Linked DNA regions of Homo sapiens: regions 1 and 3 are each linked to region 2. The links come from fine-mapping of genetic effects on gene expression. A gene starts in region 2. Each other region holds a variant in brackets. All regions are shown on one strand. Distances are between the middles of the regions.

Region 1 (2,755 bases), 43 kb before region 2:
TTAAGCAATGCCTCCCATTCAAAAACCCTAAAGATATTCCTCTGTATTTAATTTCAACAGTTTCAAGTTTTTTTTTTTTTCATAGTGAGGTCTTGAATCCACCATGGTTTTTATTATAGAAGTTTAATTTTACCTTTTTCTGTTTTCCTAGCACAATATATGAACACATCCATTCTTTTCCCATTGGTAGTAACAGCATGCTCAAGCTCATCCCACCTCCCCATAAACACAGGAATGAACCTGAGAGTTGCTCCCATTGGTCTAACAATCTACCTCAGCCCCAAGGCAATCCTGATTCGCTACTGCAGCCTTGTGTTTTGCAGGGAAGAAACCTTCCTTGCTCTTCCCCTTCAGAACTACCACGGCTCTTTTTTTTTTTTTTTTTTAGATGGAGTCTCGCTCTGTTGCCTAGGCTGGAGTGCAGTGGCACAATCTTGGCTCACTGCAATGTCCGCCTCATGGGTTCAGGCGATTCTCCTGCCCCAGCCTCCTGAGTAGCTGAGACTACAGTCATGCACCACCACGCCCATTTTTTTTTTTTTTTTTGTATTTTTTTAGTGGAGACAGGGTTTCACCATGTTGATCAGGCTGGTCTCGAGCTCCTGACCTCAAGTGATCCACCCGCCTCAGCCTCCCAAAGTCCTAGGAATATAGGCGTGAGCCCCCGTACTCAGCCTGCTGTTGCTATTCTTGATTACCAAGCTTCGTTTTAAAAGTCAAATTCAGTTCTCAGTCCTTCTAGAAGGAGTGGTGATGAAGATTGTGCAAAACACCAGACCACAGGTCACGAGAGGACGCCTAAGACGACATGCTCAGGCTGCCAGGAATAGGCATTTGTGCTCCTCCTAGAGAGGGCTAAAGGAAACTGCTGCTAGGAGGCACTCAGTAACAAGGAGCTTTAAATAAGAAGATGAACTCACAGACAGTCCAGCAGGAAAACAAGCAGCTGGAAGCTCATCGTCCAGTGTGTTTCACTGTCCCAAGTAGACTTCAGTATTCCTCAAAAATGTCCCTGACAACACTCTCTATTCTCTTCCACTTATCATATACAGTAGCATGCACAGGAGGAAGATTCACTCAAGTATGGGCGACGGTCTGTGAAGAAGCTGGTGAAAGTACACACACAAAGTCTTTTTTAATTGTTTGAACCAGGACAATTCAGTTGCACTGGATTCAGCTGCAGTACTCACTGGCGTTATTCCGTTATCTATTTCTTCCTGCCTCTTGGTAAAATTGCATTTCCCCACCCTTTCTGAGTTCTGACTTGACCATCTGGTTTGCTTTGGGTAATTAAACGTAAGTGAAATAGCAGGTGTCACTTCCAGGAGGAAGTTT[C/T]GAGAGACGGTGGACGATGTGCCACCTTCCCTTTTCTTGACTTGACTGCCCTTGAAGCTCAGAGATGCAACTGCTCCCAGACTGGGCCTCCGGAGTGAGGGCAGAGAGAGCAGAGCCCTGCCCCCTCTAGCCGGCGCACAACAGCATGAATGAGCGAGAGGCAAACCTTTGTTATTTTAAGCCACTGGGACTTGAAGTGGTTTGTTATCACAGCATCACAGTCTATTCTGAGTGTGTGTGTGTGCGTGTAACAGTAGCATACATCATCTATTCATGTGTCAGGTTGCCTACTTTCTTTTTCCCTTGGGAAGAACTGTCCTTTATTTTAAGATTATGTCTTTGATACTTGATTGGGCACAAAATGTACTTATAAAATGGGCTGGGCGTGGTGGCTCATGCCTGTAACCCCAACACTTTGGGAGGCTGAGGTGGGTGGATCACTTGAGGTCAGGAGTTCAAGACCAGCCTGGCCAACATGGTGAAATCCTGTCTCTATTAAAAATACAAAAAAATGAGCCAGGTGTAGTAACGCACACCTGTAATCGCAACTACTCAGGAGGCTGAGGCAGGAGAATGGCATGAACCTGGGAGGCGGAGCTTGCAGCGAGCTGAGATTGCGCCACTGCCCTCTAACCTGGGCGACAGAGCAAGACTCCACCTCAAAAAAAAAAAAAAAAGACAGAGTCTTGCTCTGTCGCCAGGCTGGAGTGCAGTGGCACGATCTCAGGTCACTGCAACCTCCACCTCGTGGGTTCAAGTGATTCTCCTGCCTCAGCCTCCCGAGTAGCTGGGACTACAGGCACTCGCCAACACGCCCAGCTAATTTTTGTATTTTTAGTAGAGACAGGGCTTCACCATGTTGGCCAGGATGGTCTCGATCTCTTGACCTTGTGATCCGCCCACCTTGGCCTCCCAAAGTGCTGGGATTACAGGCGTGAGCTACTGTGCCAGGCCAATATTTGTATTTTTATCTATGCTTTTCTGCTTCAAATAAAGAGATGCCTAATAAACTGTTTTAAATAAAGAAATGACATTTTATTAATAAAATAAATAAATATGTAAAATACATCAAGATAATTCCTTCCAACATGGGGTCACCTTGTAGCCCTGTAATCAGGATTTGATAAATTCAAGGTTGTCAGTAATTCAAAACAATTTCCCTTTAGACTAAATTTTGCATAAAACGTAAATCTTATTATCACTGCAAACCTCTCGCTGGGATTTATGATTTTAGATTAGTAATGTATGAAACCACTACTTTGTTCAACTGTATTCCCTCTGCCAACTTCATGTATATACCTAATCTATTCCTATCTCAGAGGCTCATCTAATTTTCCCAACACTGGGAGTGGTTTCCACGCAGTGATCATACAAGCATTATGTGATGAAAGAAAACTAAGCCTGTTAACCGTTGACCTGA
Region 2 (2,755 bases):
TGAATCTGGTCATAACGAAAGGATAGCCTGTGCCTGCCTCCACGCCTCCTGCCCTACCCGGGTGGATGCCCGCGGCTCTGGGGCTCTCCCTATGCCCTGACTCTGGGGAGCCCCGGCTGGCATTGGCTCGCGAAGGTGACCTGCGGACAGACCAGTCAGAGATCACGTTGGCTGGTCGCGGCGCGGGCCACAAAGCTCAGCGGAGGTGGGGTAGGGGACCAAGCTGTCCCGGCGAGGGAAGAAACTGTTGCTTCCAAATCATTGCGGCTGGAGGAGCCGATCTGCGCCCCAGCGTGTTAGGACAAGGGCGGCGCGAGGGGCCCAGGGGCCAAATGGGGCGCTGGGCAGGAGGGGCTGTCTCCTGCAGGGGAGGAGGAATGGTCCCCTGCCAGGGACCTGGGGAAAGGTAATAGTCAGGAGGGGACCGGGCCGCAAGAAGCCCATCCTGGATTGCAGCACGGGCAGCCAGCGCGAATTCAGTCAGGAGGTCCACGGGGACCGGTAAACGAGAAGGGGATGCGGTGAGGACGCCGGACTGGCGTTTCTGCCGCGCTGACACCTCGACTGCTCCCTCCCCGCACCGCGTCCCCCAGCCTGAGACGGGGAAGCCACCCAGGGCACCGCGCTCCCAAACAGCGGGGAAAAGGCGCTCTGGGCGGCGGCTGAGTGACCGAGGGACCGGTCCGGAGCCAGGAGCTGGGAGGCGCGGGGATGTGGTGGGGAGGAGGGGAGTGGGGGCAGTGAGGGGGCTCAAATCCTGCGGGGACGCCCGCTTACCCTGCCGTTGCGGTCAGTCTCCTGCGCCTCCTCGACGCTCACCCCGCGCCGCACCAGCGTCCGCAGCAGCCCCACGTTGTTGGCGCAGGCGGCGCGCAGGAGGGTCGCCGTCTCCGGGACGCTTTCCGGGACGCCCTCCGGGACGCTCTCCGCGCTCTCGACGCCGTGCTCCTCCTCGTCCTCGAAAGGGTAGAAAGAGTCGTCCGAGGCGATGCTGCGGGTGTCTGGCAGACTCGAGAAGTCCTCAAACTCTTCGTAGTCAGCGGGGTCCTCCTCGACCTGCGCGCCCCGGGGTGGGGACGGCGGTGGTGGGGTCATGCAGCGCGCCCCGCCGCCCTCCGGCCCGGTCCCGGCCAGCAGCACCATGCCGGCGGCCGGGGCGCGGGCCGGGGGCCGGGGCGCGGGCAGGAAGAGCGGGACGCGGGGCGCGCGCCGAGGTCCCCGCTTCTCGCTTCTGCGTCCCCAGAGAAGCCGTGGCCCGCGCGCTCCAGCTCGGCGGAAACCGGCACCAGGCGGCTGCGCTCAAAGAAAAAAGTCTCCGGAGGCTGAGCGAGCCCCTGGGGTGGGCGGGACCGCGGGGGCTTTCCGAGGCGGGGCGGGGCGGGGCGCGGGGACACGCCTTCCCCCGGGGCCTTCCCCTCGCGCCCCTTCCTGGCCAGAGTTCAGAGCCAGGCAGGCGCTCTCTCGAGCGCGGGGACTGGGCACCTGGCAGCGTTGCCCCAGAGCTGGGGACAGCTGGCGCGGGAGAAGCAGAAGCAATCACTAAAGAAGCCGAACCCGAGTCGCGGGCGGCAAGCGGCCCCGCCCCTCCCTCCGCCGGCCCGCGGGATGGGGGCGGAGGTGGCGGCGGGGGGACGCCGGGGCGGAGCCGGCCTCCAGCTTCGGGAACCTCGGACCCCTGGAGCCGGCCTCCGCCGAGGGCGTCGGGCCCCCGGACCTGGGTGGGGCCGGTTTCTCCCGCCGCTTCAGAGGAGCAGAGCGGGTTTTCTCCCTTCGGGGGATCCCGGGCTTCGGGGCTGACTCCACCCGGCCGCGGCCGCTTGGAGGCCGGGGAATCCCCGGGGCGCTTGGCGGGCAGAGGAGCCGGGCGCGGGAGCGGAGCCGTCCACCTGGGACCTGTGCCCGGGGAGCGCTGCGGGCCGGGCCACTCTGAACTGGGGGCGGTCGGCTGCTGTGGGGGAGTCCCAGCCCGGAAGGGAGGACAATCCTCAGAGTCCCCCGTCTCGCGGAACCGGGGCCGGCCGTGGCTTGAGGGTTGGTCAGATCCTGGGATGGGGGGCGGGGTGTTCCGGAACCTCAGGGAGCATCTGAGTGGGAACGGACGACGAGGAACTCCCCGTCCCCATGCCTGGCCTGTGTCACGTGCGGGGATCTGCGGACTCACCCCCGGAGGCTGCGACTGGGCGCTGACCCCACGTCTGGCTGCCCAAAAGAGCAGGGCCGCGGGCGACAGCCGCAGTCCAGGCCCACAGCCCCTCTGGCCCGGCCTTGCCCTCTCCCCGTCAGTCCTGGCGCCGGGGATGGGCGGGGAGGAGGAGGGCGTGTGAGGATTTGCCACAGGGAGCCCTTGACTTCGGGGTAGGAGGCGTCGTGAGCCAATCTTGGGGGAAGGTCTCTGCGCAAAGGCGCGGAGGTGCGCTCGCGCCCGTCGCAGGTCAAAGACTGCGGAGGCCACCAGCCCTGTGTCCCCCTAGCCTCCTTCCTTCCTTTTTTTCCCCCGATCTTGACAGCGTGTCCACCAGCTGCCAGCCGGTGGGAGGCCCTCGCGGCCCCAAGGTGAACACAGCTAGGCTGGCGCAGCCGCTGGGGACCAGGCTTGAGGCCCACGTGCCGCTGGGCAAGCTGAGGGGCACGAGGGCACCGAATCCGAAACAGCCGTGGGAGGTGTAGGATGAGGACACGTTTAAACTGCGAAGCCGCTCGAGCCCTCGTGTCACACCGCACTGGCCCGACCCGCTGTCCTGGTCGCCTGGTCTTC
Region 3 (2,755 bases), 95 kb after region 2:
TCACTGTCCCCTCCCCAAGAGCCACTTTACTCTTCACCTTTCCTTTGGAGTTGGGCTCCAAGGCTCTGGAGTCGGACTGCCAGGACCCAGTAACAGTCCCTGCCTTTCCACCCGGGGGACTTTGGACAAGGAAGTGTGCCTCCATAACACAGGGGTAATGACAGCAGCCTTCCCTGCCACTGGGATGAGAACTTAATTAGCTGCAAAACCCGTACGTGGCAGGGGGGCCAGCCCTTAGCAGGTGCTGGGTAAATGCATTTTCACCTAAGCCCGAATATTATCCCAACCCAAATGTCCTTCCGGCCCCGAGGCCCCACGGCCAGGGCACTTCATGGATGCTGTGTGGCTCTCCTGATCACGCCCTGCTAATACTTTACGTGAGATTCAAGAATGGGACTGGGGTTTGAGGTGGGACATGTGCCCAGAAAGCCATTCCATATCCCAGGCCAACTGGCTCCAACTCAGCACAGGAAAGCGTGGGATCCCTGCTCCAACCTCGGGGAAAGCATGAAGGTTCCAGGAAACAGTGGACATCAACCCAACCCCACCTATCCAGTTTCTTTCACCTGTGGGGGCTTCTGGCCTTACCAAAAGCCAGAACGGGGAAATGGGACAGATACGGGGAATGCTGTTGGATGGAAGAGTTGAGAGGGACAGGAGTGTGAGGCCAGGTGGGTGGGCCTGGACCCTGGGCAGAAGGAGGACCTGGCTGCCCCTGGCATCTTAGTTCTAGGCCAGTCCCCTCTAAAGGGGGTTAATCCTACTTCTGTCCACTTCATGGGGTCCTGGTGGGGATCCCCTTCAATAACCAGGGGATTGTACAATTGTACAAATTGTACAAAGCAACATAATAGAGTTGGGATTTTCCTTGGAGGACGGGGGACCTGAACACATTTCATTCTTGAGATGCTAAGGCACAAAGCCGCAGGCTGACAAGGGTTTCATCGACCTCTGAGAATGTTTAAGACTTGAAAAAAATTATTGGCTGCAAATTACGGAAATAGCAAAATCAGACTCAATAAATGATTAATTTCTGTGTTCATTCCTCATTAATTGCTAAATTTAGTATACATAAAAATCTCACTACATTTGAAAACGATTTGTAAGTTAGATTCTCTCACACAATGAGAATTCACAAGTATGTTAGTGATTGCCAAGAAATAACAACTAATCGTAAATTCAATGTGTGA[C/T]TCTTAGCACAATCATTTCAAAAGCAAATCATTGGCCCTGCCCAGCCACCTCAGAACTCCACCATGCTGGGTAAGCACGTATTTCTGGAGTCATCCCTGCTTTCATTCTTTTCCTATACCTCATAAACCAACAGAAGAAATATACTCCACTTTCTTTAGAGATGAAAAATACAGAAGCCAACAAATAAAGTTAGCTTGAAACCAAATAAGCCACTCGTTGCTGCCTGGACAAAGACTTAAGACACATATTTCAATGGGACAGAGCATTCTTTAAGTCATAAGATAAAACCACTGTCCACTCATCTGCATCTTGTAGCTTTTTCAATTCTGCTTCCCACCACCCCCCTCCCCACACTGCAATTAAGGAAAAGCAGGTGTTTTTCAAAGTCACACCGTATGAATGCCAGGAACTTTTTTTTCTTTTTTTGAGACGGGATCTCACTCTATCGCCCAGGCTGGAGTGCAGTGATGCAATCATAGCTCACTGTGGCCTCAACTTCCTGGGCTCAAGCTATCCTCCCACCTTGGCCTCCCAGGTAGCTGGGACCACAGGCGTATGCCACCACTTCCAGCTGATTTTTTTTTTTTTTTTTAATTTTTTTGTAGAGAAAAGGTCTCACTCCATTGCTAGGGCTGGTCTCAAACTCCTGGGCTCAAACAATCCTCCCACCTTGGCCTCCAGAAGTGCTAGGATTAAGGCATGAGCCACAGTGCCAGCAAACGCTCCATCATCTTCAGAGTTTATTTAATTTTTATTTTTTTAAAGAAAGTTGCTCTGTCGCCCAGGCTGGAGTGCAGTGGCACGATCTCGGCTCATTGCAAGCTCCGCCTCCCAGGTTCACGCCATTCTCCTGCCTCAGCCTCCCAAGTAGCTGGGACTACAGGCGCCTGCCACCACGCCCGGCTAATTTTTTGTATTTTTAGTAGAGACGGGGTTTCACCGTGTTAGCCAGGATGGTCTCGATCTCCTGACCTCGTAATCCACCCACCTTGGCCTCCCAAAGTGCTGGGATTAGAGGCGTGAGCCATTGCGCCCAGCCCAAAGTTTATTTTTAAAGTGACTTCAATTGGAAAAATTGTCTTTGACTCTTGAGGTGCTAAATCCAGATGTGGCCTCCTCTCCACGTGATAGCAAATCTCCCATTATTGTACTGGAGCCCCTATCAATCCCGTTAGGGTCCTCAGGCACCTCCTCCCATGTTCATTGCAGCAAGGGAGTTTCTGCTGTTCTCCTCCCAGAGCTACTTTCTTCAAACACACCAGCCACCTGAACAGTTTATTTTATTCAACATCTTGACCAGTTAATGATATTTGCAATAAAGTTTGTAGTTATTAAATAAACCATTTGAGTTACCCCCTAAAGACAAGCAACAATCTGACTGAAAGCCCAACTACCTATGGCTATTTTAACAAGAAATAACTGCAGGCTATGAAGGGGAACATAGATGATTCAGCCTTGTAACAAGAAGAGTCAAAATCAACAGAATAGGGAACGTGTTTTCCTTGATGAGAGGAAGCCCTCTGCCTGAGTATTCTGGGATTAGGAATCCGGTTTATGAGGCACA

Direction of the effects. Positions count from the first base shown, and alleles are read on the strand shown. Sizes are in standard deviations (SD) of each study's normalised expression.
For the expression in whole blood of the gene that starts at base 1,541 in region 2, allele T in region 1 goes with a lower level than allele C (moderate effect, 0.51 SD a copy in GTEx).
With allele C in place of T in region 3, the expression in fibroblasts of the gene that starts at base 1,541 in region 2 is higher (small effect, 0.12 SD a copy in GTEx).

What was found.
Region 1: its variant is fine-mapped to the expression of ANKRD33B in whole blood (TOPMed, PIP above 0.99).
Region 3: its variant is fine-mapped to the expression of ANKRD33B in fibroblasts (GTEx, PIP 0.96).

The regions. Positions count from the first base shown.
Region 1 is chr5:10,605,988-10,608,742 of GRCh38, reverse strand. The region is part of intron 1 of ANKRD33B (ankyrin repeat domain 33B); the gene reads right to left. Among named protein-coding and RNA genes, the nearest start is that of ANKRD33B, 43 kb to the right of the region's middle. RefSeq lists an enhancer at 528-777 and a silencer at 1,448-1,497. The variant C/T (reference allele first, on the strand shown) is at 1,336.
Region 2 is chr5:10,562,856-10,565,610 of GRCh38, reverse strand. It overlaps ANKRD33B (ankyrin repeat domain 33B), which reads right to left and starts at 1,541. Exons shown (of 4, transcript NM_001164440.2): 1 at 778-1,541. The coding sequence starts at 1,143. RefSeq lists enhancers at 1-37, 358-567, 1-583, 584-1,478 and silencers at 708-757, 1,098-1,957.
Region 3 is chr5:10,468,349-10,471,103 of GRCh38, reverse strand. It overlaps a transcript of ROPN1L not described here. Among named protein-coding and RNA genes, the nearest start is that of MIR6131, 8.3 kb to the left of the region's middle. The variant C/T (reference allele first, on the strand shown) is at 1,191.